4 linked regions of the Homo sapiens genome follow. The protein of the gene in region 4 interacts with the protein of the main gene of each other region in a pairwise test. Each region holds a gene or a part of one and is shown on either strand. Other genes may lie near its edges. The genes, in order: PPCDC, VBP1, ATXN10 and ZNF232.

Evidence for each region.
Region 1: the proteins of ZNF232 (region 4) and PPCDC interact in binary tests that used the Homo sapiens proteins (3 or more experiments, as listed by UniProt).
Region 2: the proteins of ZNF232 (region 4) and VBP1 interact in binary tests that used the Homo sapiens proteins (3 or more experiments, as listed by UniProt).
Region 3: the proteins of ZNF232 (region 4) and ATXN10 interact in binary tests that used the Homo sapiens proteins (3 or more experiments, as listed by UniProt).

Annotation. Positions count from the first base shown.
Region 1 is NC_000015.10:75,026,590-75,033,615, forward strand, and holds part of PPCDC (phosphopantothenoylcysteine decarboxylase), read left to right. Parts: intron 1-1,657; 5' UTR 1,658-1,729; coding exon 1,730-1,864; intron 1,865-7,026. UniProt on the Homo sapiens protein: Catalyzes the decarboxylation of the cysteine moiety of 4-phosphopantothenoylcysteine to form 4'-phosphopantotheine and this reaction forms part of the biosynthesis of coenzyme A.
Region 2 is NC_000023.11:155,233,435-155,240,342, reverse strand, and holds the end of VBP1 (prefoldin subunit 3), read right to left. Parts: intron 4,115-6,908; coding exon 3,976-4,114; intron 1,572-3,975; coding exon 1,501-1,571; 3' UTR 502-1,500; downstream 1-501. UniProt on the Homo sapiens protein: Binds specifically to cytosolic chaperonin (c-CPN) and transfers target proteins to it. Binds to nascent polypeptide chain and promotes folding in an environment in which there are many competing pathways for nonnative proteins.
Region 3 is NC_000022.11:45,737,821-45,744,846, forward strand, and holds part of ATXN10 (ataxin-10), read left to right. Parts: intron 1-910; coding exon 911-1,019; intron 1,020-2,548; coding exon 2,549-2,718; intron 2,719-7,026. UniProt on the Homo sapiens protein: May play a role in the regulation of cytokinesis. May play a role in signaling by stimulating protein glycosylation. Induces neuritogenesis by activating the Ras-MAP kinase pathway and is necessary for the survival of cerebellar neurons.
Region 4 is NC_000017.11:5,108,867-5,116,078, reverse strand, and holds the start of ZNF232 (zinc finger protein 232), read left to right. Parts: upstream 1-4,200; 5' UTR 4,201-4,256; coding exon 4,257-4,279; intron 4,280-4,859; exon of another isoform or gene 4,860-5,003; intron 5,004-6,210; coding exon 6,211-6,685; intron 6,686-7,026; coding exon 7,027-7,153; intron 7,154-7,212.

The sequences.
Region 1 (7,026 bases), on a different chromosome or scaffold from region 4:
AGAGGCTAGAGAGCCAAGGGGCCTGTGAGTGAAGAGGAGATAGGCCCCTGTGGATGCTCAGCCATGGAGGTAGCCATTGGACAACTCACCAGCGCTGCTTCCTGGGCAGCTGCCTGGGTTTCCCTTGCCATGCTGATTCTTTTTTGAGTGCATCTTCTAGGACCTTCTGTCTTGGAAGGAGAGCCCCTTACTGCTCTCTTTCATGTATTGACTCAAAGTTTCTGCTGGAAGGAGCTTCAGAGATCATCTGGTCCTACCTCTGCATTTTTCAGATGAAGGGACAGGTCCAGGGAGGGAATGACCCTGGACCAGGGTCACTCCAGGTCAGGAGCACACCATGGTCAGGGCCCAGGGCTTCTGCTTCACAGGCTAGGTATCTGTCTTCTGCTCACACTGCCTTGGAGGGTATAGTTATTCATTCAGCACCTGTTCAGGACTGCCGGCTAGTGGACTGCTGGTTGGCAATTAGACCCGGTCACACATTCAGGGAGCTTGCTGGTGGAGGGAGAGGCAAGGAAACTGATGTGTTAATTGAGTCTGTGATCACCAAAAAGGTGCATCCCAGGGAAGGACTGATCTCAAATAATTTCAGACAGGTGTCATTCCTGTCTTCTCAAACTCAACCTACAGATTCCCCAGAGGCAGCTACTGTGTTTTCCACAATTCCTTTGCATGGTGTTCTTTGTAATCGGTCCTCAGTGATGGTTGCTGATGAAGCACGTTCTGCTGGCCCAACCCGCCACGTGTAGGTTTTGGTGTCCATCAGCCATATTATCATGAGTGCACACTTCTAGCAACGTCTGAGAGCCAGAGGAAGAAGCAAACCAGCTAATCTCCTGGGGTGGCCTGCATCCCCTTTATGCTGGTTTCTTCCTGGGCTTTGATTTGTACGGTGGTGCCCATCTTGATTAACAGGGACAGGGACAGAGAGGCAAATCTCTTGGCTCCCTGGAGCACCCAAACCTCCCTGTTGCCCAGGGTTCCACCTCATGAGCATCTTTGGAACCCATCCCTTCCTGCCGCTTCCTTTCACCAGTCAGCCCAGTCCACCGCAGCAGCTCCTCTCGCCCTCCAGTCTCTCCACTAACAGGGTCCCTTTGACACTGTCACCAGGTGCCAGCACCGTCTTTCTAAAACCAAAACTCCTCACCCTGGCCCTCGCTGCCCACGGCATTCTGGCCTCACCCTGACTTTCAGTCTCACTTTCTGCCCCTCTACCACCCCCCATCACAGTCCGGCCTCACTAGTAAGCCACTCCCTGTTCCCCAACCTGCCACCCTCCTCAGGACCTTCACCTTGGCAAGATTGTTCCTTCCTTTGAAGTGATTTCTTCCTGTCTCTGAAAAACTAACTCATCCTTCAGGACTCAACCCCAATGTCATTTTTTCTGGGATGCAATCTCTGACTTCTAGAGATGGTCACCCTGAGCAGCCACGCACCTGGTACAGCCCTTCCCCACAGCACTGCATCATTCCCTTGTGACTGGCCCATGTGTGGGGAAGGTGTCTCACTTTCTTATCAAACTGTGTGCTCCCTGAAGCCAGGACTGCTGATCCCTTCCGCTGCCTCAGCCTCTGGCCTGGGGCCTAATACGTGGTGCTCCATACATTCTGGTCGACTGTATGAATGAAGGGGGTGGCCCTTGTTCTCCTTTTAGATCCTAAATCCCGACAGCTTTATAGAGCCCAGGCCTGGCAGGCTCCCAGAACTTGAAGCCACCAGACCCCACATGGAACCAAAGGCCTCCTGTCCAGCTGCTGCACCCTTGATGGAGAGAAAATTCCATGTTCTTGTGGGTGTCACGGGGAGTGTCGCAGCCCTGAAGTTGCCTCTTCTGGTGTCAAAGCTTTTGGACATTCCTGGGGTGAGTATCCTCACCAGATAAGCATGGCAGCCTCCGGCATGGGAGGCCGGTGCTCCCGGGGATGGCCCATTGCTCTGCAGTACATGCAATTTTCTTTTTCTTTATCATGTTAATCATGCTTGTGGAGGTCCTGTGTGTGTGGTGCTCTGTGGAGGATTCAGGAGACAGAGACCAGTGCCCAGTGTAACCAGGGGCTAGATTAGATAGTACAGACAGGGCATGAGGGGAGACTGGGAAAGGACCCAGTGAACGGAGGGTTTGGGCTCCCATACATTAACCCTGAGAATCCGTGAAGTCCTGTGTGGGAGGAGGGCTGGCTGGAGAAGTGCAGCAAGTTCTCAGTATCCCCTCCTGCCTTGGGCTTCCCCATCCCTGCTTTCATTCCGCCTTGAACACTGCGGCTGTGTTCTCCCTCCTCGTGAGACCTCATGGTTGTCTTGTCAGTCAAATGCTCTGAAACCCCATTGTCTGAAGCTCTAGGTTCAAACTTTGCTCCTTCAGGTGTTCAGAGCTGCCCCAGGGGCCCCCGACTGTGTGCTGGGGTGAGGGACTCTAGCCCCCGTCCTTGGCCAGACCCTCAACTTGGATCTATTTTCTATATTGGGGTTCTGGTGCAGAAGTTCAAGGCTTTAAACAGCGTGAAATCTAACAGGGAGTGGCCCCACTTCCTAGTTCCACCTCCAGGGCCCTTAGTTGGTCTGTCTTATCCCCCTTGGTCTTTGCGTGGCTGGGCCCTGCTAGGCTGGCTGCCCTCTCTGCTCCTCTCTCGCCTTTTCACATTCTGTGCAAAGCCTTCCCTGTCTGCCCCAGCCCAGCCCCTGTGGTTTTGGCCCCTTCTTTTAAACTTATTTGACATAGAACTATAGGTTGCCTTAGACACTGCTGGTGTTACTGGCCCCTAGTTTTTGGTGGGGTCTTGTGAAGTTGCTGGGCCCCAGGCCTGGCTTTTCCCTCTTGTTATCAGCTGAGCACCCAAGGTGCAGTGGCCGTATCTGGCATGTCCAGCAGGGGGCGGTGCTTACTCACAGATGACCACGTGGTCACATCAGCTGGGGCTGGGCTGGGAAGTGTTTCACTTTTTTACTTTCCACCAACTTCCACCCAGAAAGTCACCCCATCACCCCACCCCCAGGGCTGGGATAAGCCATGAAGCTGCCAGCCAGGGATGACAGCCAGGCCAGAGTGGGGGAGGGAGGAGAGTCTCGTGGCACTCTGACACTGGGTGCTGCACTTTTAGGGCAGTGCTGCTTAGGCCCAGCCACCCGCTGTGTACCCAGAAGCATTGGTAGGAGCTGCCCAGCTAGAGCCGTGAGGGTGGGAGGCCTCTGCCACCACCCCCTGGGGAGGGAGGGAGCCATGCAGTTCCCTTTTCCCATAGCCCCAGGGCAAGTGAGTTTCCGGACTAGGGGTGGATAGGGGCGGGGAGTCCTATCCCAGGAAACAGATGGGCAGCCTCAGAGCGGAGGGAAATGGCAACCCTACCGCTTCCTCCCATCCCACGCAGCCAGCGTTTGGTGGGAGGGGGGTTGTGAGGAAAGGGTTGCCTGGAGCAGGGAGGTGCTCCAGCCCACCCCAGGGCCTTTTAGCCTGGGCCCCATGGGATGGCAGGCCATGTCTGGAACAGGACTTGGCTTCCCCTCTCTGGTTGGAGTTGATGCCAAAAGTGAGGCAGCCAGAGGGCACTGAACTGGGAGGGAGGGCTCCCCGACTCAGCCTCTTGGAGCTTGCCTTTCCCATTTGAAAATAGGGCTGATTCCTGCTGCCCATCCCCCAGACTCTTGTCAGGCTCCCTGAGATGTTGGCTGGGGTGGGAGGGGTCACAGATGAAAATGGTCCTGTGCCAGTGACTCAGCACAGAGCCTGGCATGTTGAAGCACTCGGTTGTGTGTGTTTCCTGGCCATCACCCTGTCCTTTCCCCTTGTTCATGTCCTTTGGGCCAGCCACATGGTGTGGGGCAACCCCACTGGGAAGAGCCATGGAAGCCACAGTTCACCTGCTCTTGTGGAGGGCCCATGCCTTTCATCTGCAGGGAGACAGCTCTCCAAGCCTGGCCTTGCTTATTAGGGCCCTCGTGAGGTGTTGGGATCCAAAGGTAATCCCTGGATTGCCTTGTGTTGGCCCCAGTGGTGGCGTCTATCCCTGCACACTCCCCTTCACTCCCTGATGGCCCTGATCTCCACATTGCCTCCTGCTGGATCTCCTGCAGGAGCATCATTGTCCCTTGGAGCAGTCACTTTCAGCTCTTCACCTGCTGAGTCGTGGGTTCAGGTGCTCAAGGCTTTCCGGAACTTCCTTAGGTACATCCAGATTTTGTCTAGCACATGAACAGCTGGGGTGTGGGCTGCAGGGAGCTGGGGGATTCTACAGATCTGGCCCATCACTGTTCCTGATTGACCAGTATGTCCAGACATCCCGGGAAAGCCGCTAATGTCAAGGTAGCCAAATCAGGGAGACTGTGAGGGGTGGTGGAGAGACATGGATTAGCCACAAGCCACACACACCAGCAGTCAGGGAGAGTAGTCACTAGCAGAGATGACCTTGAGTATGTTGGGGCAGGTGGGCAACCGTGTCACAAGAGAGGCAGCTGAGCACATTTCTGACGCTGGGACCCTGGGCAAGTCCGTTCTTTTTGGCCATAATTTTCTTATCCACACAGTGAAGGAGGGGCAGGTTCTCAAATGATCCATCTCCAGGGCCTCTTCTGGCACTGGTGTTAGAAGATTCTAGATGTGAGGGCAAAAAGGACTAGGACCCAAAGGCAGCCTGAGAGAAGGTCCTGGGGCTCAGGAGCTTCAGGATGCCGGGGGTTTTGTAGTTCCGTAGTTGTCATGTAATTGAGTGGCAGTAAAATCCGGGTTGTCAGCTCAGGCAGTTTCTTCCCTGGGGTTGGCAGCCTGGCCCATGCAGGGGAGCAAAAATGGCTTTCCTCCATCTTGCTAGGCTGCTTGGCTGGGCTATGAGTTCAACTGACTTATAAACAAAATTAACAGGGCCGGGCGCGGTGGCTCACTTTGGGAGGCTGAGGCGGGCGGATCACTTGAGGCCAGTTCGAGACCACCCTAGCCAACATGGTAAAACCCCAGCTCTACTAAAAATACAAAAATTACCCGGTTGTGGTGGGCGCCTATAATCCCAGTTACTCAGGAGGCGGAGGCAGGAGAATCGCTTGAACCCAGAAGGCAGAGGTTGCAGTGAGCTGAGATCATGCCACTGCACTCCAGTCTGGGTAACAGAGCAAGACTCCATCTCAAAACAATAACAACAAAAAACAAGATCAACAGGAGAAAACCATATTTAGTTACATATCTGCACATGGGTGTACCACAAAATATGAGATTCCCAGAAGGGTGAGATGGCTGAAGCCTGTATAGCAGCCTGAGCTACAGAAGGAAATAGGGGCTTGGGGCTTCTGGGGGTGGTGGCGACACAAGTTATGGGAGGGTGAGGGGAGGAATTATACGGTCTTGTTAGGCAGATAAAAACCTCTCAGATAATAAAAGATGCCTCAGCAGATTGTCAATAAGTCAGTCTTCCTTTCTCAGGGAGGGGGACTCAGGACAAGGGGAATCCCTCTTTAGGCAGATAAGAGAAGTTCAGAGAAAGTTCCTCCCTGCATTTGTTTTTCCCCCAGTGCCTTCAGGTTTGAAATAATCAGCATACCAAAGCCGCATATTATGGGGTGGCATTTCCTGAACTCCTTCATCCACACCCTTCAAACTTGGGAGGAGAAGACAGACATCGCCCTAGCTTTTGCCAGGGCAGGTGTCAGCAGAATTCAGAGCCAAAAGGGGATTTCTAAAGATAGAGAAAACCCCCAACTCAAGGAGTCAGCAGGCCTCGGGCTCAGAGAAGGATACATTTCTAGGGTGTCTGTCAGGACATCCAGGTCTGTCGAGGGTGAGGAAAAGAAGGCTCTGCTCATATGCAGTGTGGAGTAAATTCTGACTTTCTGGAGGACCACTTGACAATATTGAGAGAAATTAAAACATCTTCATAGTCCTTGATTTACCCACAGGATTAAACTCTGTGGGGTGTATTTACAAAGTGAAAGGATGTCCATTATAGCATTATTTATAATTTCAAAGCAAAACTGGAAGCAAACAAAATATCCAGCAGTAGAGAGCTGTGGTGCCCTTATGATTTATGGGACAATCTCTCAGTGGATTACTTGGCAATGATTCAGAAAAATGGGGTGGCTCTCTCTGTGCTGAAGGGAGCAATCATCAAGATGGAAGCGGAATAAGCAGGGTGTAGGAGCTAGCAAACTGGACCCCCCCCCCCAAGGCCAAATTCGGCTCTGCCTGTTTTTGTATAGCCTACAGCTAAGAATGATTTTTACATTTTAATTTTTATTATTTATTTTTGAGACAGGGTCTTGTTCTGTTGCTCAGGCTGGAGTGCAGTGGTGTGATCACTGCTCACTGTAGCCTTGACCTCCCAGGCTCAAGCAGTCCTCCCACCTCAGCCTCCCAAATAGTTGGGACTGCAGGCGTGCCATCACACTCTGCTAATTTTTTTGCATTCTTTTTGTAGATACAGGATTTTGCTATGTTGCCCAGGCTGGTCTCAAACTCCTGGGCTCAAGTGATCTGTCTGCCTCCACCTCCCAAAGTGCTGGGATTACAAGCATGTGCCACTGTGCCTGGCCTGATTTTTACATTTTTAAATGATTAAGTCAAAAGAAAAATAGTATTTTATGACTCGGAAAAAAAGTGATATGAAATTCAGATTTCATGTCCAAGACAATTTATTGGAACACAGCCATACCCATTCATTTACGTATTGCCTATGGCTGCATTCGTGCTACTACAGAGTTAAATCATTACGACAAAGCCTAAAATATCATCTGGCCCTTTATAGAGAAGGTTTGCCGACCCCTGGTATGCAGCCTGATTCCTTCTGTGTGTTCTTATACTGAGTTACTGCACACAGTTTTTTCCTCTGGAGGTGGTTACCCTTGTGAAGGGGGACCAGTGGAGGAAGGGAAACTTGCATTTTTCATTTTTGTATCATTCTGTTCAGTTTTAATTTGTAACCTATGTGTATATTTGTGTGTGTGTGTTTTTTTGTTTGTTTGTTTGTTTTAAGTCAGTGGGGCTTTTGGTGGGAATATTGGGGAACATTCTTGATAAGTTTGTGCTTTTTTTTTTTAAAGTGCTCA
Region 2 (6,908 bases), on a different chromosome or scaffold from region 4:
GTTTGCAGATCTGTATTCCTTCCACAGGGATTTTATGGTGTTTCTAGAAATATAAGTTGTTCTTGGAACATGCTAGTATATGTACAAGTAAACTTTACAAATACGTGAAAAGACCCATGTTAACTTTAAAAAGGTGTTATTGTCTGAATCTTTGTGTCACCCCAAAATTGTTATGTTAAAATCTTAACCCCCAAGGTGATGGTATTAGGAGGTGGGGCTTTTGGGAGGTGAGTAGGTCATAAGGGCAGAGCCCTCATGATGAGATTAGTGCCAAATTAAAGAGGCCCAAGGGAGCTCCTTGCCCCTTCTGCCACATGAGGGCACAGTGAAAAGGTGCCGTTTACGAACCAGGACACAGCCCTTACCAGACACCAAATCTGCCAGCACCTTGATCTTGGACTTCCCAGCCTCCAGAACTGGGAGAGATAAATTTCTGCTGTTTATAAGCCCCCCACTCTGTGGTATTCTGTTATAGCAGCCCAAACATAGTAAGACAAAGAGTAACATGAAAAAAGTGCTCTGCCATAGTTTTAGCATCACTGTTTTAATTTCATGAAATACAAGTACAAAACATTGTATAAGTATACTTTTTACTACATGGAGATGAACTAATACATTTATGTTTTTATCAGAATCTGTATCACCCAGCGCTGGTCAATGTACTAGTAGCTTTCCACAGGGATTTTTTATACTATTCCTATAAGGTTTTATCATGAATAAAAAAGCTCACAACTCTTTTCAGCCATTGCAGATTCACATTTATCTTAATATTCCTGTTCAAGATGCTCTGGAGAACTGTTAAGAACTACAAAATCACCTTAGGCAGAGTTTTGAATGAGTAATTTTATTTCACGTTGGCCAAGATCTCCCTTATGTTGGCATTGCAAAGACACTGCACTTATCTGAGGTTAGAAAAAATGTAGTCTTAATAGCCCTCTTAATGTGTAGCAAGGCAAATTACCATTTCCTAAAATGTCCAGAATATCATAGTAGTTAGTTATTCGTTAAGCAGTAAGTCATGAAACTCCACTTATAGAAGACAATAGCAACAGAGGACCACTAAGTCCTAAATATACCAAAGAAAAACAAGTTTACAAATATTCAAACTGTCTGTCTTCTCTACCTCTAAAATGGTTTAACCACATCAAGTGAGAGTAACATCAGCCAATTAGAAAGGGAAAAAGTAAACTGTGCTAGCGTCCGGCATTCAGCTTCCATAGCATGTCTCACAGTTTTCGGCCATTTCAGCTAAGAGTTTTCTTATGACAGGCAAAAATAATGATTAAAATACCATTAGCTTTGCTGAGAAATGTGGAAAAAAAAATCACAATGTCAAAAATATTTGAAACTAATTTTGTTTTTATAAATAAATAAAATGGTGTTTATCTTTTCTTAAAATTCTTGCTGTTAAAACATTCAAAGTTATGTCAACCTGTAAGGATAAAGGGGTATTTAAGATAACATGTTTGGAAAACTAAACCACATTTTTAATTGCCAGCATTATGCTTTGTTCTTGGTAGAGTCATCCTTGTTTCTTCTTTTTACATCCCAATTATAAACCCTGGCCATATCTGCAAGAATTGTCAAAGAAAATGCAAATGCAATTCTAAAGATAATGCATGCAATGACTAAGTATTCACTCCACTCACACAATGAATCAAAGACACAGAAATGAAACATATACAAATACTGGTAACAAATAGTATTGTAAGACATCCTGCTATAATGTCAATTGTTAGGAAAATACTATAATTAAACTCTATCAAAACTAAGGACTCAAATTAATTGTTAACCCATTGTTTACTATGGTATTAGTCAACTGTCAGCTAGTCAACTATGATATATTTAACAAATATGTACTAGACACTCTCGATAGTTTTAAAGACAGTCCCTCATCCAAGAAATCTGAAAGATCACTCAACCCATATCCTGCCATGTAATATTTATATTATTACAATTATCAATAATTTTATCTCTTACCCTCCCTTTGGCTTAACAAGTTTATTAAGCATCTACTGTATTTTTGACTAGGCACTGTACAAAGCCCTGACCTGAATAAGACAGGTGAAGTTCTTTTCCTCGTGGAGCTTAGACTCCAGTAGAATGTCAATGTAACAGAGACTGTCCACCCTAGCTCCCTCACTTGTCTGCACACCTTCCTTTCCTACCTTTTGCAGTACTAGCAATAACAAATGGCATTTAACTAAGCTTGTAGGACTCATCTTAGAGGATTTCCTCACTTTTGGCTCCTGTACCCATCTAAGTCACTGGATCCTGTTTTTTTCTCACACGTTTAATATCTTTTCCTTTCCACAAGCCACCCGTCCTAGGCCCTCGTCATCTCATAGCTGGATGAAGTTTCCACACTACCCGTCAGATGATGATGACCACTGCACTAGGCCCCAACAGGCCTGCCTTCCCTCAGCCAACCATAAACAACTGCCACATGCTGCACACTGGAAAAGAAGAGAAAGTGCAGCTCCTACATCTGAAGAGCTCACGGTTTGGCAAGGTAAAACTAAGCAGTATGTGTTAAGCAAGCACACAAGAAACACTCTGAGGATCAGAAAATGTTCAGGAAAGCTCTGATGCTTGGACTGAGATATTTAGGGTAAAAGGGTAAAAAAAGAGCACATCCTGTAAATATGGGAAAGTCATTCCAGTTAGGAGGAACAAAGTGTAGAAATGCAAAGGGTGTGGCACAATTGGGGAGTGTGTACAATAACTGACTGGGGTTATCTGGAACCTGGAATGCACTGGGGAAAGGCAAGAAGAGGTCAGTGGCATGAGGTGAGACAAGCTGGGGGCACTTCACAAGAGTGCCTATATGTATATCTTGTAAGTAACAAGGAACCGTTGAAATATTGTAACCAGAGGAATAAAAATGAGTGACCTAGTAAATTCATACTAGAGATAGTGGGAAGGACAGATGGAATGAGAGGAACCTAAAAAGGTTCTGAGTGCAGGTTTTGGAGCCCCAGAACGAGAACAGTAATGGGCAGAGAGATTTATGAGGGAAATTTGATGTGAATCTGGCGACTGATTTATTATTGGTAGTGAGGAAGAGAGAAGTGTGAAAGGTGACTCCCGTGATTTTGTCTTGAGTGACTGTGACAGGAAGTAGGAGGAAAAGACAGGCCAGAGAAGAAAGGCAAAGAGCTTGCCTTCCCCCTTGACCAGAATACCCCACTCCCACCTCTTCTCTCTGCTGATCTTTAAACCCTACGCCGCCTTTAAAAAAGCAGCCTAACTTTTATCTTCTCAACAAAGCCTTCTTTGAACTAAGTCCAGCCTACATCTATCTTTCCCAAAGTTTAAATTGCCTTGGTGTTGCATATGTTAACTTACTTATAGTTTGCTATGAATTATCATTCAGCTGTTTTACATGTACAGTTCTACCAGAGAAAGGCACTGCCACTCTTTTCTAAAATTGATTTTCATGCCCCATATGTCTTAGCACAGTTGCAGGAACATAGGAGACCCTTAAATGCTTGTGAAATTAAACTATTTAACCAGTTATAAAGTTGTCTTGGGAAAATATTTGGAAGAAAAATACTTACTCACCTATGTGAATTTGCTGTTTCCACATCACATTTCAAAATCACTAATCTATCTACAAACTTATTTAAGTACTAGTTCCGAATATCTTATTTATTATCTTATAAAATCTATAACCTTTATATTAGCCTAATAAGGAAATTCTTCCCACTAAAGCAATGTAAGAAAGAATGTGGGAGGTTTTTTGTATTCTAATTTTTTTTTAGTTCTAGGGTACATGTGCAGGATGTGCAGGTTTGTTACAAAGGTAAACGTGTGCCATGGTGGTTTGCTGCACCTATCAACCCATCACCTAGGTATTAAGCCCAGCATGCATCAGCTATTTTTCCTAATGCTCTCCCTCTGCCCATGAAAGAATGTTTTTTTAAAAAAATCTTTCTCCTTTTTTCCCTTGCTTTTTGTTTTAAGAAAGGATACTGACTTCTGTGGTAGTAAATTGATCTCGAAGAAAGTCAAGGTCTTCCTCCAGGGAATCAAGATTCTTTGTGGCAGTCGATAAATTCTTTTCCAACAATGCCTGAGCTTCATCAATATCATATTCAAGCATTACATTAGCCTGAAGAGAGAAAGTCATGACAATTACTCAATATTTACACAGAGCTTTATAGGTTAGAGTAAAGTGTGGGCAAACTACAGCCCTCAGGTCAAATCCAGCTTGCTGCCTTTTGTTGTAAGTTAAGTTTCACTGGAGCCCAGCTATTCTCTACTCAGGCTTTCATACCACAATGGCAAAACTGAGTGGTTGAGACAGAGACCATGTGATCTACAAAACCAAAAATATTTACCATTTGACCTTTTACAGAAAGTTTGCTGACCCCTTGGTTAAAGAATATATTTACATACATTGTATCATTTAATCCTCAACCCTGCTGAGGCCAAAGTTGTCTTCTTCACAGTTAAAGAAATGAAGGCTCAGGTTTCCTTAGCTGGCATAGCTAGTGGGTAAATGGGAGAATCAGGATAAGAAACCAGTATGTTTAGATACAAAATCCTATCTTTCTACTACCTCCATCGTGAAACTAAATAGTGTTGTTTGTATCAATTTAAATAAATTCTGAGCTTGAGATATGATATTAATTTAAAATTTTTCAAAGACATTTATTATCATCTATATTTGACCAGGTAAAAAAGACAGCTAGCTTTTACCTGTCCCTTCCTACTACTTCTGACAGATGTTAGGGATTAAGACAAGGTAATGTGTCTGTCATTCTGAAGATCTAGTGTTACTGCCAACATTCAGGGATGCATGTACCCTGGAATTGGGAAGCCACACCTTTTACAGCTTTGAACTCTCCCTATCACCTGACTTACCACTGGCATTTCCTAAACCACTTTCCTCATCTCACAAATGCAATTTTAAAATTACTCAAAGGATTGTTGTAAGGATTAAACAAGACAACATGAAAGTATTTGGCACAAAGTAAATGCCAAATAAATACTTATTGACCAAATAATCCAATCCATAATTAGAAAACTGTATTAAAATTCAGATAGGACAAAAATATTCAACATAAGCAAAGACTGAACATAAATATAACAAGAATCCACAAAGAAAAAAAAACCAAAGCAGGGGACCAAAAAAATTTCTAAATCCTTCATTTCAACAAAATGTTCCTGAAATGTGACACATGCACATACTACACACACACACACACACACACACACACATACACACACACACACTGGGTGAAATGACACGCAAAATGAAATGAAAGGGTACTTTGTATACCTGGGGGAAACTGACCCAAAAGTCCTTTGAGCATCCAGGCAAAAAGAACACATCACTCATAGAAGAAAGAAATCAGTTTGCCCTCACACTTTTTGACAGTGATGCTTTACAACAAAAGAAAATGGGGCACTGTATAAGATGCTCAAGGAAATAAAATGTGAGTTTAAGATATTATATCCAGCAAAACTGAATTTCAAGTACAAAGGCCACAGACAAGTTGTCAGCAACATGAGATAACTCAGGGAATATCATTCCCATAAATCTTAAGGCAATCTACTTATCAGACGAATGAGTAACATACAATCAAAATGACTGGATGATGACTGGGGGGACATCAACATAAAGACTATGATGTGCATTCAATATTTACACGAAGAACTAGGATAAATGAAAGATGAGAGAGAGAAAGAGAGAGAGCAAACAGTATATAATGGCTCTGTGCTCCAACAATGTGGGAACAACCTTATAAAGAATGTGTAAGGACAGGAAGAACATATGCAAAAATGTCAGTGGTAACAGTGTTGGGTGGTGTTATTCTAAGAATGCTTTGCGTGTGAATAGTAATGTTGTCTAGCTTAATTCTATCACCCTTGGTATTTCTGAAAACCAGGATTCTTGATATAGAAGAAACAGGGGGGCCAGGCGCGGTGGCTCACACCTGTAATCCCAGCACTTGGCAGGCTGAGATGAGTGGATCACTTGAGGTCAGGAGTTCAAGGCCAGCCTAGCCAACATGGCGAAACCCCGTCTCTACTAAAAATACAAAAATTAGCTGGGCGTGGTGGCACGTGCCTGTAATCCCAGCTACTCAGGAGGCTGAAGGAGGAGAATCACTTGAACCCAGGAGGCGGAAGTTGCAGTGACCCAAGATCACGTCACTGCGCTCCAGCCCGGGCGACAGAACAAGACTCTGTCTCAAAAAAAAAAAAAAAAAAAAAAAAAAAAACAGAGGAACAACTAAAGTGAAAACTCTGTTGTCCTGAATTTGAATTGGAGGTAACAGTATGAAACCATGAGGTACACACATATTAACCTGAACCTTTGCACACAAGTTTATGCAGGTTAGCTATATCCTACTGGTTCTATTTCTCCGGTTGAACCCTGACAACAGATTCGTTCACTTACACTTTGCTTTATGCAGTTTTCTGATTTTTTTGTTTATATTTAATATTATATACATATAGAAAAGTATTCATATCATAAATATATAGCTTGATGTATTTTCACAAACTTAACACACTCATGGAACCAGCATCCAGATCAAGGACAGGTTATCACCAACACCCCAAAGCTTCCTTGTGAACATTTTCAGTTACCACCAGCACCCCCACCGCAAAGGTAACCATTAACCTGACTTACAGCATAGTTTTGCCTGTATTACAACTTTACATAAACAGAATGACACAGTATATGTGCTCTTTTGTGACTGACTTCTATAGTAGGCAAGAATTATGGCTCCCATAACAGCTGTCTCATTCTAATCTCTGGAATCTGTGACTCTGATGAGATATTTACATCATTTGTCAGAGCTGACCTTAATATACAGACTGCCTAGGTAGGCCTAATCTAGTTATATGAGCCCTTAAGAGCAGAGAACTTTTTCTGGCTGGCAGCAGAATGA
Region 3 (7,026 bases), on a different chromosome or scaffold from region 4:
CCCTAGTAGCTGGGATTACAGGCACCCACCACCAAGCGTGGCTAATTTTTATATTTTTTTTTACTAGAGACGGGATTTCACCATATTGACCAGGCTGATCTTGAGCTCTTGACCTCAAGTGATCTTCTGGCCTCGGCCTCCCAATGTGAAGAATGTTATCTTTATGGACTAACTTTATAATCTCTGCCACATTTTGTCAAATGATGGGTACTTTAAAAATGGGGTTCAAAATCTATACAAAAGTTACATTTAAAATTTTTGTATAGACTACTTAATGCTATGCAGTTGGTACTGGGTAGTTTCTTGGTCATGCAGTGTATTTGATAAATTATTTAGTAGCTATGTGAAGTAGCATTTTCAAACAGTACTGTCTTTCTAATCTACCAAGATATTGCATAGAAGTTCATATTTACCCAGAAATTATGCAAGTTCTTAAAGCCAGAGTTTTTTCAACCACAGCATTTTACAGGATTTCTGTGGACAAGAAATTAATGTATTTTATGGGATATTTGTATCTTTAAAGTGGAATTTGCATGCTGGGAATGCTTTAAAAAGAAAGTATTTGCATAAATGTCATGTACATAGCTAGTAATTTTGAACATTTATTCCACTGTTGGAATGTCTTTTTGCTTGAATAAGAACTTTTCTGACTCTTTGCTCCAAGAAGACACATAATGACACATAATCTTGCATTCTTGATGGCAGATGTCTGCTGTTAGTGAAAATGATGAGTCGTGTACATATTTCATACTTCTGTTTTGTTCTTCATAGTTTTGTTTTTCTCTTTGACTTATTACAAGCACAGACTCTTTAAATTTATTGAAATATTTTATTCTCTTACAGTTATTTATAACAGTTAAATAATTTCTCTTAAAATATGCTAAAAAGTTATGTTTTCTTTTCTTTCTAGGAGGCACTGGCTACAATTAGGCTTCTCGACGTCCTGTGCGAAATGACTGTGAATACTGAGCTGCTCGGCTATCTGCAGGTTTTCCCTGGCTTGCTGGAAAGAGTGATTGGTGAGTGAAATATCACACATTGTATTTTTAGCTAAGAAATCTTTGGCTTGTCATACTGTAATATAAATCCAAATACAAATCCTTAATTTTCAGTGTACTTTGGGAATTTTGTGAATATATTTTTTTGAGAGGAATCACAGTGTTGTAACAGTTCAGGCAGGCCAGATAAACCTGAGCCCATGTGTTTGTTCAGCCACTTCCCTTCTGTTAACTGAAGATTCCTTCTCAGTAATGTGAGGATAACAATGCCTGTTATGCATATAGTAGATGTTTCATCAATATAGGATGTGATGAAGAAGGTGGGGCAGGCAGGTTTGCGATGATGATTGTGGTTTTATATTACTATAGCTTTGTAAAATGTGGCAGTAAATTTTTCCCATTTACATTTAGTGAACACATAGAATGGTGTTTTATACATATTATATATACAAATCTTATGAGAAAAAGGTTTTAAACAAGAAACCATTGTTAAAAGTATTACCAACCTTGCTAAAAAGCTGTTTGCAAAATAATTCAAGTAGAACCTGTTCCTTGTGGCTAGCCATGCTTAGGTTTGCTGTTCATTATTTGCAATTTTTTCCTTTAAAAAGATGATACTTACTCTGGAGACCAGTGTCCTGAGAAAGATGACTTTGTGTCTAGCAGTATAGATGAGCTAGCAGTCAGCTGTAGAGGAAGATCCTTAGAATTCCTCATCAGTGTTGTATTTTGAGTACATTGCTTTTAGTGATAATTTAAATAAAACACCACAAACCTAGCACACTTGAGTGATTATGGAAGGAGCCTGAGTTTGGAGCCAGGGTCGATGTGGGTTGCCATCCCAGCTCTGCCAGGTGCCAACTTTTCTGAGCCTGTTGTTTTCTTCATTATAAAATTGGGAAAGTGATACCTTCCTGTATAGGTTTGTTGAGAGGGTTAAATGAGATAATGTGGAAACACTGAAATGCAGTTCCTGGAAGATTGTCTGTTTTCATTGGCTGCCTGGAGGTGCTCATAGAGTAGAGCAGTGGTAAGTTCTTTCTCCTGAATGTAGCTGGAGTGAAGTATAGAGAACATATGCTGGCTTCTGATGATTTGGCCAGTTGGATGAGGGAAAAATAAGCACTCTTCTTGGTTTCTGTCATATGCATCATTATGGATAGATATTGTGTTTTAGACTTCATTGACTGAAGTTATTAGAAAAGTTCTTTCATAAAGAAGTTGAGATTGGAAACCTTTTTGTAAGAAGGATGCTAGCAAACTTTTAGCTAACTTTTTTTGTAGATAAATAGAAACTCTGAGTTGGGGTAGTCATTATGGCTTATCTCCCCAAAACTAGAGTCAAAAAATTTAAAGCAAAGGCAGAAGAGCCTTCTAATCATTTTTTGAAGCAAAGGCAGAAGAGCCTTGTAATCATTATTTAAATAAAGCTTTCTGTGCTCTACCTTTAGCCTATTACAATAAATTAGATTTGTCTATGGAAAACTATTAGTACAACATACTAAAAGTTACTTTTCTGTGGAAAATGAAGTTTACTCTTTTGGTTATAGATCTTTTGCGGGTGATTCATGTAGCTGGAAAAGAAACCACAAACATCTTCAGTAATTGTGGTTGCGTGAGAGCAGAAGGTGACATCTCCAATGTGGCCAATGGGTTTAAGTCTCATCTCATTCGTCTGATTGGAAATCTGTGTTACAAGAATAAAGATAACCAAGACAAGGTAAGAGGATTTCTTAGTATGTATTATACATGTATGGCTTCATTTAGAATATAGTCCTTGGAAGACATTCACTCTTTTGGAGTGAAAGCTTGAGGTGCTTAGAAAGTAGCTTGGATAGAGAGATATATATTTTATATGAATACACACACACACACACACACACACACACACACACACACACATATATATACACACACACACGTGTGTGTGTGTGTGTATATATATATATGTATATGTTAATATATAGGCTCTTTGGAGCCTAGACAAATTTCTAACACACAGTAGATATTTAATAAACACTAGTTATTATTGCCTATTATCTTAAAAAACAAAGCTTAGATCTATATCCTATGTTTATGGACGATAGCATCATAAGCCTTTTCTTCTAGATGTTTTAAAATGGATATAAAAGGAATATAATATTTAAGTATGAAGTCTTTGAGGACCTAGTAGGCTGCTTTTAGAAACCTCTTATGTGCAGAAGAGCTTAAAGGTAGTTATATTGAGAATGTGAGAGAATGGTAAGAAAGATCTCAGGGCAGTTGGACCACATGCTTCAGATTGATCTCGCCTTTCTGTATTTTTCTGGAGTTTTACTTCGGGTGGCATTTGATTTGCTTAGTTAAATATTAATTAAATTTCTGCCAGATTATATTTTTCTAAGATGGTGGCAGAATGTCTTGCATTGTACATGTGTGTCTGCAGTATGACTTTGCCACTCCCCTGTCGAGGGTTGGCATCTATTTCTCCATCCACTTGAATCTGGGCAGGCCCTGTGGCTGCTGTGAGCAATCAAATATGTGATCCTATACCATTTGTAGCATAGCCCTTAACTGGTCTAGCTGATTCTATTTCTGGCTTCTTAGAAGCCCGTCACTATGTAAGAAGTATAGATTCCCAGAGATCACCTTGCTGCGAGTTGCTGAATACACATGGAAAAGCCCTGGAAGATAAGATACAATGAGGAGAGAGGAAAGGTCTGGTGAAGGAACATCAAGGCATGAGATGTGTGCGAGAAACCATCTTGGGAGTAGATCCATCCTCAGTTTCTTACTTGCCCAGCTGATGCCACATAGATCAGGGCCCCCCTACTGGGCATAGTCCTTCCTGAATTTATGACCCATAGTATTATGAGAAAAAGTAAAAAATAGAAAAAAAAAATAAGGGATATAGGTCCTGCTTCAGTTAGTAGCCCAGTCAGTTACTGTTGGACTGATCCTTCTTCAAATAGCAATTATAAACTTTGGACAAAAAATAGCCATGTGAAGACACTCGAATTTGACACAAACGGGCAGATTCTGGAGTGAAATTGATGCTTGGAAGAAGGGAATGACACAGTGTGTGGCATGCAGGGCAGTGAAAAGTCAGTTACAAAATCTTCCGTCTTTCTAGCTTGAAGAATCAAAGAACAGTTTGAGGGCAACCATGGCATTGGAAAGTGAGGGGGGAATTGTGGAAAGTAGAAAACAGACCCCAAACTCTGGGTGTCAGCTACCTAAATCTCTGCTAATGGCTGAATCACACGTGTGGGGCAGGCTCCAGGCAGCTAAGCTAAGGATGAAGTCATTGTATTGAGATTTGAGCTCCCACCCTAGAGTTTATAGTATTAAGTCCAACTTACACTGTAGATAATTAATAATTGCCCTCTAAAAAAAAAAATCAACACTCTTTAGAGGAATATAATATAATCCAGAATTGCCACAGCATAATGTATCCTGTAATGTCCAGGATACAGTTTACAATTGCTTGACGTTCAGGAAAATGTGACCTGTTCTCAATTGAAAAGATGATCAGCGGAGACTGACTGTGAGAGGACACAGATACTGGGCTTAGCAGACAAGGATTTTAAAGTACCAAATGTAACCGTGCTCAAGGATGTAAAGGAGATACGCTTCATAAGAGTGAAAAGGTGGGATATCTCAGCAGAGAAATAGAAACTATAAAAAAGAACCAAATGGAAATCCTAGAACTGAAAAATACAGTATCTAAAATAAAAAAAAAAAAATACCGAATGTGCTTAACCTCAAGAAAGATCACAGAGGAAAGAGCCAGTACACTTTAAGATACATCAGTAGAAATCATCTAGTCTGAAAAACAAAAGCGGGGAGAAAGATTGAAAATAAAACGGCCGCTTTAGGATGCTAAATGTTAGGGTAATTTGTTATGTAGCCGTTGATAGCTGGAATAATTCCTGTGAGACATGGCGCAGAACCAAACGCTAGACAACTTGCACTTTTAGTATATGGGCGCACCATTTTGGCAATCCTCATCTTCAGGAGAGTGAGACTACTGATTCCCCCCTTGGGAAATTACTGGACTGATTTTTGCAAAAGAAAGTTGATAGCGAATAAAGCACTTTACCTTTTTAATGACCAGGACTGCCTTTCTTGAGCACAAAAGAGGTGGTTTTTCTTGTGTTTAACTATTCTTTTGTTGCTAATTTGGACTGGCCTCTTATAGGAACAAAATGCAGTAACCCTTAAAAGGCTTGCGAAATAACTCACTGAAGTCAGGATCAGATTGCACCATAAGTAAATATGGAGTGTGCCCAAGTGCTGCTGTGCAGAGGTCACTGGGGCGCACAGGAAGTCGATGGTGTGTCCTGTCACTTGTGCAGTTGCTAATAGCACTGCTGATTTCTCAGCAAACAGTTTAGAGGGTATGAAGGAGTTCATTCTTTGAGTATCAACTCAAATGCCCTCTGTTTCTCTCAGTTTCTTACGTGTGTCAACAAAAGGCCTGAACCTGAAAGCATTACCTCTGGGATTTTTTTCCTCCTTCCAAAGACCGACACAACGCCGAAATCTTGTTCTGGATGTGCTAGAGTGTTCTTTATTCTTGTAGCCAAATCCTTGTTCCAGCTGGGTGTTACAGATATTTGCCTTGCTCATTGTTGCCTCAAGGGATGGAATTCACTCGCACTCAGATGACTTTGGTTATAGTTTTGGGAAAATGGAATGGATGGTTATGTAGCAGGTCTTTATCACGGGACCAGTAATTCTCAGTGTTTTGTCTTGATGGATTGTCTCACTTCTAACCCAGCTAGGGCTTTAAGGGAAATTTGGCTCTGTCTCTGCTCCAAGACTAAAGATCTGAGTTGGGAGGGATTTCGTATCATCTAGCCTAATTTGGGTTCCTCCTTTGCCCAGAAGACAAAAGGGACTGATGATTTATTGTTTAGTGTTTACTATGTCCTTGCATTGTGCTTAGTGAATTACATATATTATCAACTTTAATCTTTGCATCAGCCTTGCAAAGCAGGTTCTGGTAACCACATTTTAAGGAGAGGCCATCCAGTTAGGTGCAGAGCCCAGGGTAGAATTTGGATTTGTTTGCCTATTGAGTTCCCAGGCCTGTGCTCACTTCCTGCCCCATGGTGAGAACTTGCCAAAAGGTTGGAGAAAAGGGTTTAAAATAGACTTCCTGCAGGACTTCAGGCTGGAGGCTGGTCAGTCTGCGTCTCCTAGGCCAGCCAGGCCCCTTAGACTCCCTCCTGGTTGAAGTTGGGAGCTCTTGGGGGTCCTCTTATCCTTGTTTCTGATTCACCCATTCATCAAATACGAATGTTTGCTGGCTTGGGGATCCTTTGACGGGTAATTCAGGCAAGGTATTAATATCTTCTGTGGAGCTTCCATTCTGGCATCATCTGGGGACCATGCTTGCCTCTTTGAATCAGAATCTCAAAACTACTCATGACACAGATTTTCCTAAAATCTTTGTGTACTGCCTGATTCCTCTGAATTTTGAGCAAGACTCTTTCAAGCCCAACTGTGTCTGTGTTGTCTGTGTAACTTCATCCATTGCAGTGAGTATGGTGCCCACCTGCTGGATGGCCCTCTTACACTTGTGTGGCACTTTCCATTTTCCAGAGCTCTTTTCATCTGCTTTAGTTTGTTGGAGCCTTATGATACCTCTGTGGAAAGGGCTGAAAAGATATTTCCACCATCATTTTCTAAATGAAGAAACCAAGGCCCCGAGACCAAGTGTGATTTAACTCAGCTAGCACTTGCTGAGTGAGAATTGCCGTGTGCTGCATGCTCTGGAGAAGACAGTCGCTTTAGTGGTGGAATGACACATGTCCACTAGGAGCTGTAGCAAAAGTCCGTGTGGTGAGGCCTGTCAGAAAGGAACAGGGGGGTGATGTGTCCTCTGGGCTGGCTGTGCCAGGAGCATTTCTCTCTAAGGACAGGCACTGGACTGCCAGGAGCATGGTATCAACTGGAAGGATGGTCATCTTTCTTTGAGATACTTGTCTTTGGGCAAGATTTAAGAGAATCAAGGTACGTTGCCTCAGATTGAAAATCTGCA
Region 4 (7,212 bases):
GAGCTGGGCGTCGGGGCCCGCCCGTCCCGCCGCGCCGCTAGCTGTCCCCTCTGCCTGGCCTCCGTGCCTTGCGCCCCTTTGTGCCGTCCAGCCCTACAGCTTTGAGGCCCTTTCGGCGCACGCACCCCGCCCCGATCCCCCGGCGCTATCCCAGCCTTGACGGCCGGGGAGGCTTTCCCTAGCCCGGCGCCTCGAGGACCGCCTCAGTGGCCAAAGGCGGCGCGGGGTGCGCCCGGGCTGTGTCCCCGGGAGGCTGGACCGCCAGTCCGCGCATGAGGCCATCTGTGAGGCACGAGTGCAGGAGAGTGAAGGAGACCGGGGCGTGCTGAGTAGGGACCTCCCTCAGTGACTGGAAGGTTATTCATGGGGCCTTCTGACACTCTAAAAACGAAATTTCTCCGGGGTTTGATGAGTATCAGGGTGGTGGCTTCTTGAGTTTTGAGCAGGCATCACAAATCAATCCCTCTGGAATACAGAACTGCCTCTGTTCCGTTTTGGGTTTTGTGTGTGTGTGTGTGTGTGTTTTTGGAGACGGAGTCTTGCTCTGTTGCCCAAGCCGGAGTGCAGTGGCGCCATCTCGGCTCACTGTAACCTCCGCCTCCCGGGTTAAAGCTGTTGTCCCGCCTCAGCCTCCCGAGTAGCTGGGATTACAGGCGCCCCCCACCACGCCAGGCTAATTTTGTATTTTTAGTAGAGAGAGGGTTTCACCATGTTGGCCAGGCTGGTCTTGAACTCCTGACCTCAGGTGATCCACTGGCCTCGGCCTCGCAAAGTGCTGGAATTACAGGCACGACCCACCACATCCGGCCCTCTGTTCCTTGTTTCGAAATAACTCAATTAAAAGTCAGAGGCTCACTGGCCACATCTCCTTCCACCCACCCACCGCCCCACCCCCCAAAAGATGCCTCTAGCAAATAAAATGAGACGTCCTGATGCCTTCCTGGCTCGTTCCAGAATTTTTAGCTTTGACTTTTGACGTGGGGTCCTTCTACCTAAAGTCCCCGCCGTCACATCAGCCCCCAGTTTTCCTCTGTCTTAGCTCGGGCTGCCGTAACAAAATACCATAGACTGGATGCCAGACAACAGAAATTTATTTTCTCAGTTTTGGAGGCTGCAAGGCTGTGACCAGGGCCCAACATGGTCAGGTTCTGGTGAGAGCTCCCTGGCTGCCTTCTCACAGGGTCCTCACATGGCAGAGAGAGAGGGACCCAAAGCCCTCTGGTGTCTTTTTTGTTTGTTTGTTATTTTTTGGGACGGAGTCTCACACTGCTGCCAGGCTGGAGTGCAGTGGCCCGATCTCGGCTCACTGCAACCTCCACCTCCCAGGTTCAAGTAATTCTCCAGCCCCAGCCTCCCAATTAGCTGGGATTACAGGCACCCACCACCACACCCGGCTAATTTTTGTATTTTTAGTAGAGAGGGGCTTTCACCATGCTGGCCAGGCTGGTCTCGAACTCCTGAGCCCAGCTGATCCACCCGCCTCGGTTTCCCAAAGTGCTGGGATTACAGGCGTGAGCCACTGCGCCTGGCCAGAACTCAGTCCTTACAGAACATCAGAGAATCCATACAAGGTGAGAGAGAGGCCTTATAAATGCATTGGGTGTGGGAAAGATTTGAAGGGGAGCTCACAACTTATTCAGCATCAAAGAATTCACAGTGGAAAGAAACTTTGTGAATGCAATGAATGTTCAAAGACTTGTAATCAGAGCTCACACTTTATTCGACATCATAGAATTCATAGTGGAGAAAAGCCCTATGAATGTGACAAGCATGGGAAAGCCTTCAGATGGAGCTCAGACCTTGTGAGGCATCTGGAAATTCATATTGGAGATAAAGTTTTGGAATGTAGCGAGCGTGGAAGAATTTTCAATCAGAGCTCAGGTCTAATGCAGCACCAAAGAAACCATACAGAATCATAACCCTAGGAAGACAGTAATGATAAAGATGTCAGTATGTACATATAGGAAGAGAGAAGGAGAGTTTGTTTTTGTCCTAACTATTTGGAAAATTGTAAGCTTCCTAAGAGCAATTTTCATCTGATTCAGTGTATAGTACTTAGTCTCAGGTCATGTGCAGATATGTCCTTCCCAAATGCTTACCACAAGATAAATCAGAAATCTTGACTGGAATAAGCTTCTAGTTCCTTTGCTTTATCATGAGAGGTTCCACACCACAGGAAAATCTTGTAAATGGTGGAAGCTGCATAAAGCACCATCATCATCACAAAATGGTGTCCTTGTGTGTCCTGTTTAGCAGCACCGAGAATCTAATAGCTTTCCCCTTGTCTGTTTTTCCTTACTATGAATTGTGCCAGGGGAACAGTAAAATGGGTATGATATCCTGAACTCTAGGGTGGATGTCTTTCTGGGACAGAATCTAATCCAAAAGTCTGCAAATGGACTTGAGGTTTTCACATTAGTATAAATGTCAATATGTAGTTTAGGGAATTTGCCTTATTCCTCCATTCCTAGCAAAATTAGATACAGAAGCAGCTAATTAAATCAGGAAAAGGAAACTGACAGTAAGTCATAGGACCCATTGTCTTCTCTCATGTAAAAGTAGAAGTTGTGATTCAATCTGTTCTGTAGGATTTAAAAGTATAATGGCACATTGAAGTTTGACATACTGAAATTCAGGCTCTGTCAATTTCATCTCTGTAACCTTTATTGTTTCTGAGTCTTGAGTTTTCTCATCTGTAAAATCAAGATAATGACATTAATACAATCCCTTGTGGAGCAACTGTGAAGACTAAATAAGACAATTTCATTAAGTTCCTGGCATAGTTCTAGACACGTAGTAGACATTCAACAAATGATAACTATTTTTATCCATAGCTCCTACGTGCAGTAATTATCAATGGCACTTTGAAGGAAAAAAGATAATATATCCCCCAGCCATGGGGGTGTCAATGCGCATTTTCAAGGATACTATATCTTGGAGAAACAAATTTAATAATCTGAGAATCTGAGAACTGTTACTATGGTACTACACAGTTGAACAACAATTTTTCTTGGAGAGACTAGGATTAAGCTATTTTATAAAAGTATTGAGAGACTGGATCAATCAATATCCTGCAAAATTGATAGTGAGATAAATTTATTTTTAATTAATTTTTTTTTTGAGACGGAGTCTCACTCTGTCGCCCAGGCTAGAGTGCAGTGGCACAATCTCAGCTTATTGCAACCTCTGCCTCCCGGGTTCAAACGATTCTCCTGCCTCCTGAGTAGTGGGGACTACAGGCGCCCGCCACCACGCCCAGCTAACCTTTTTGTATTTTTAATAGAGACAGGGTTTCACCATGTTGGCCACCATGTCTCAAAAAAAAAATAAAAAATAATCGGCCGGGCGCCTGTAAACCCAGCACTTTGGGAGGCCGAGACGGGCGGATCACGAGGTCAGGAGATCGAGACCATCCTGGCTAATATGGTGAAACGCCGTGTCTCCTACCAAAAAAAAAAAATTAGCCGGGCGTGGTGGCGGGCGCCTCTAGTCCCAGCTACTCAGGAGGCTGAGGCAGGAGAATGGCGTGAACCCGGGAGGCGGAGCTTGCAGTGAGCCAAGATCGCGCCACTGCACTCCAGCCTGGGCGACAGAGCAAGACTCCGTCTCAAATAAATAAATAAAATAAAAAATAACAACAACAAAAAAACACCAACCCCTATTTCCCCCATCGCAATAAAATTAACCTTAGAATTCTTTTTTCTCCTCCCCTCCCCCTACGCCCCAGGAATTGTACAGGCTAGTGGTTGGGGAATATTTTTTCGTGGAAGGGACCGTCTTCCTTAGCTGTGGCCCTCTCATCAGGTCTGGGAAGAGGTAATTGGAAAATAGAACTCATGGAGAAGTGTTACCACAGGCCATGGACAAGGCCAGAATTTCCCTGACATCTGTCCGCCAGCACCGCCCTTCAGGTACAATTCCACAAGAGACCCCCCAAACTTGATGAAGTCACCCGCTTACAAGGGCTCACTCTCCACCTGCGCAAGGACTGCAATTCCCAGGGGCCTCCAGGGCACCCGGCCGCTCCAGTCCAGTCGTGCAGGCGGCGCGCTCTTTCTCGCTCCGCTCAAGTCCAGGAACCGGTTCCCGGGCTCCCAGCCTCTCGGCAGCGCCCACGCGCCTGGGCCAAAGTCCGCGAACGGAAGCCGGCGGCGAGGAGGATTCTGGGAGTTGGAGGCCGAGGCTGCGACCTGCGCAGGCGCAAACCTGCCCCTGGGGTGAGGGCTGTAAGTGGCGCGATTCGCGGCAGCGCCCCGATGGAACCTCCTGGTCCTGTGAGGTGAGTGTTGGCGGCGGCTTCCCCGAGGTCCACCTGGCGGCTTGGCTTTTGCCCGTCCCGCAGGCAGCGGCGGCTCTGCAGTGAGCAGGCCTGGCAGGCAGCTCCGCGGTTGTGTGTGGAGAGGGGTTTGGGTTGCCCGTGGTGCCCGCGCTGCGCTACCTGCGTTGCGTCGCGTCACGTGCCGTGGAGGGGGGTCTTGATGTTCCTCTTCTCTTTTCTCGAGACCCTTGGGTAGGGAGTGAAGGGTGGGAAGGGGAGTTGTACCTGGCCTGGACGACAGCCCCCTCCCCGGGCGGGCACCTGCCCGAGGCCGGGGTAGAGAAGTTTTGCTGGGGCCAGCGGCGCCGGGCATCACCCTGGGAGACGCGAGCTCCGCGTTTTTCCTCGCGCCTCCTTTGTCTTAGGCCAGCGGTCCCCCTTTGTGCTCCTTTCGTGGCCTCTGATGCGTTCCACCTCCTTCCCTGTGTGAAAGGAAAATAAAATCTCAGGACCCCAAACTTACTATGACAAAGGGAAAAGTTAAGCTTGGAAACTGAGTCACGGAAAAAAACTGCTTTTCCTTTTGTTCCTAAACCGATAGCTGCAAGATAGAAAGCAACATATGCCCCCAGGTGGCCTCCCTCACCCTGGCAATGGAAACGAACAGCCGAGCTTCACCGGACAAGACTAGAAATCGTTCCTCCACCCACCCAGAGACAAAGCATATTTGACTTCTTCCTCTACTGTATGTCTACCTTATCTTGTGTAAAATGCAGATTTACTGAGCACGAGACAAATTCATAATTGACTTCCTCTTTTCACGTGCAACATGTGGATTCAGTGAGCTCTAATCAAATCCTCACAAGAATGTGGCCACTTACCTCACCACATACCCTCCCTCTTCTCTCCTCCTTCCCCTCCTGCCAGCTTTCTCCCCATTAAATTGAAGCCCTCAAAACCCTCTTTGGTAAAAGTGCGAGCCACGGATCCTACTGTGGCTTGTGTGTCTTTTTCCTGGGTGCATCCTCAACCTTAGCAAAATAACCCCTAAATTGGTTGAGACCTATCTCAGATGCTTTTTTGGTTTACACCTGTTAGATTTCCTTGACGCAGGCCACTGTACCCGAGACTTGTTCATAGCTGCCCCTTAATAGGGCTTTGGCATTTGAATGAGATCCAGCTCCTTAAAGGGGACTTATATTTTTCTTTTGCTGTAGCTACTACTTCAGAAATTTTTGAAAGCAGGGAGGAGCCATCTCAGAGGAGGCTGCCTCCCCAACACATTCCACCTTGCACTGAAAGCTGCTCGGCTCTGGGCTCTGCATCTGGAAACTTGGGTTTTGCTTCAAACTTATTTCTTCCAATAGTCATTTCTTCCCATAGGCCCCCAGAACTTTTTTTTTCTTGATACATTTTTCCTGTCAATGGCATTTAATTAGTTGTATTATAGAAAACCACTTTACATCCCCGTTTCTACCACGGTGCAAGTTTCTCAAAAACATTGACTTAGTGCAGCAGAATTCTGGGGAGGGGTGGAAGAAAAAGCGGGACTACAGGGCATAGGACAGGGTTTGGCTCTTTGGAGTGTTGAGTATATGTATATGTTTAATGAATGAAAAAAGAAGAGGAGGACGGGCGCGGTGGCTCATGCCTGTAATCCTACCACTTTGGGAGGCCGAGGTGGGTGGGTCACCTGAGGTCAGGAGTTCAAGACCAGCCTGGCCAATATGGCAAAACCCCGTCCCTACTAAAAATACAAAAAAATTAGCTGGATGTGGTGGCAGGCGCCTGTAATCCCAGCTACTTGGGAGGCTGAGGTAGGAGAATCGCTAGAACCCCGGGGGTGGAGGTTGCAGTGAGCTGAGATCATGTCACTGCACTCCAGCCTGGGTAACAGAGAAAGACTCTGTCTTAAAAAAAAAAAAGAGGAATGATTTCTTCTTATGTTACAGGGGGCCCTTGCAAGATTCCAGCTGGTATGAGCCTTCTGCAGAGCTAGTGCAGACTAGGATGGCTGTATCACTAACAGCAGCTGAAACTCTGGCCCTTCAGGGTACACAGGGACAAGAGAAGATGATGATGATGGGACCAAAGGAAGAGGAACAGTCTTGTGAGTATGAGACCAGGCTACCTGGGAACCACTCTACCAGTCAAGAGATCTTCCGCCAACGCTTCAGGCATCTCCGCTACCAGGAGACTCCTGGTCCCCGGGAGGCCTTGAGCCAACTACGAGTACTCTGCTGTGAGTGGCTGAGGCCAGAGAAACACACGAAGGAGCAGATCCTGGAGTTCCTGGTGCTGGAACAATTCTTGACCATCCTGCCTGAGGAGCTCCAATCCTGGGTGCGGGGACATCACCCTAAGAGTGGAGAGGAGGCTGTGACTGTGCTGGAGGATTTAGAGAAAGGACTTGAACCAGAGCCGCAGGTGGGAAGGGGGATTTGGTCTGTTATGGGAGCCAGATTGATGACCTTCAGGCTGGACCGAGGGGCAGCTGTAGGGGGAGGTGCCAAGTTCAAACCTCTCTTGGGCCAGGTAGAGCAGTTAGTATGTGTTTCTGTGTCTGTCTTTTCTGCCCTCGAGCCCTGAATGAGAAAGAGACTCTAGCTCCTCTTCTTCCCTTGTGCTGACTCTGAGGAGGCTCTCTAAAGTCTCCTTGGAAGCTTTGGTCCAAGGAGGGTCACATCTGCAAGTGTCCAGGCAGGGGACAGAAACCACACTAGTAATTTGAAGAAAATTTAAACTGAGTGGTGCCTGATCACCTCCAGGTCCCAGGCCCTGCACATGGACCTGCACAGGAAGAGCCATGGGAGAAGAAGGAATCTCTGGGAGCAGCCCAGGAAGCACTGAGCATCCAGCTCCAGCCTAAGGAGACCCAGCCTTTCCCAAAGAGTGGTGAGGAGCAGGATTCTGTGGGGAGGGAGAGGAGAAAGAGGGACTATAAAGGGCACAGT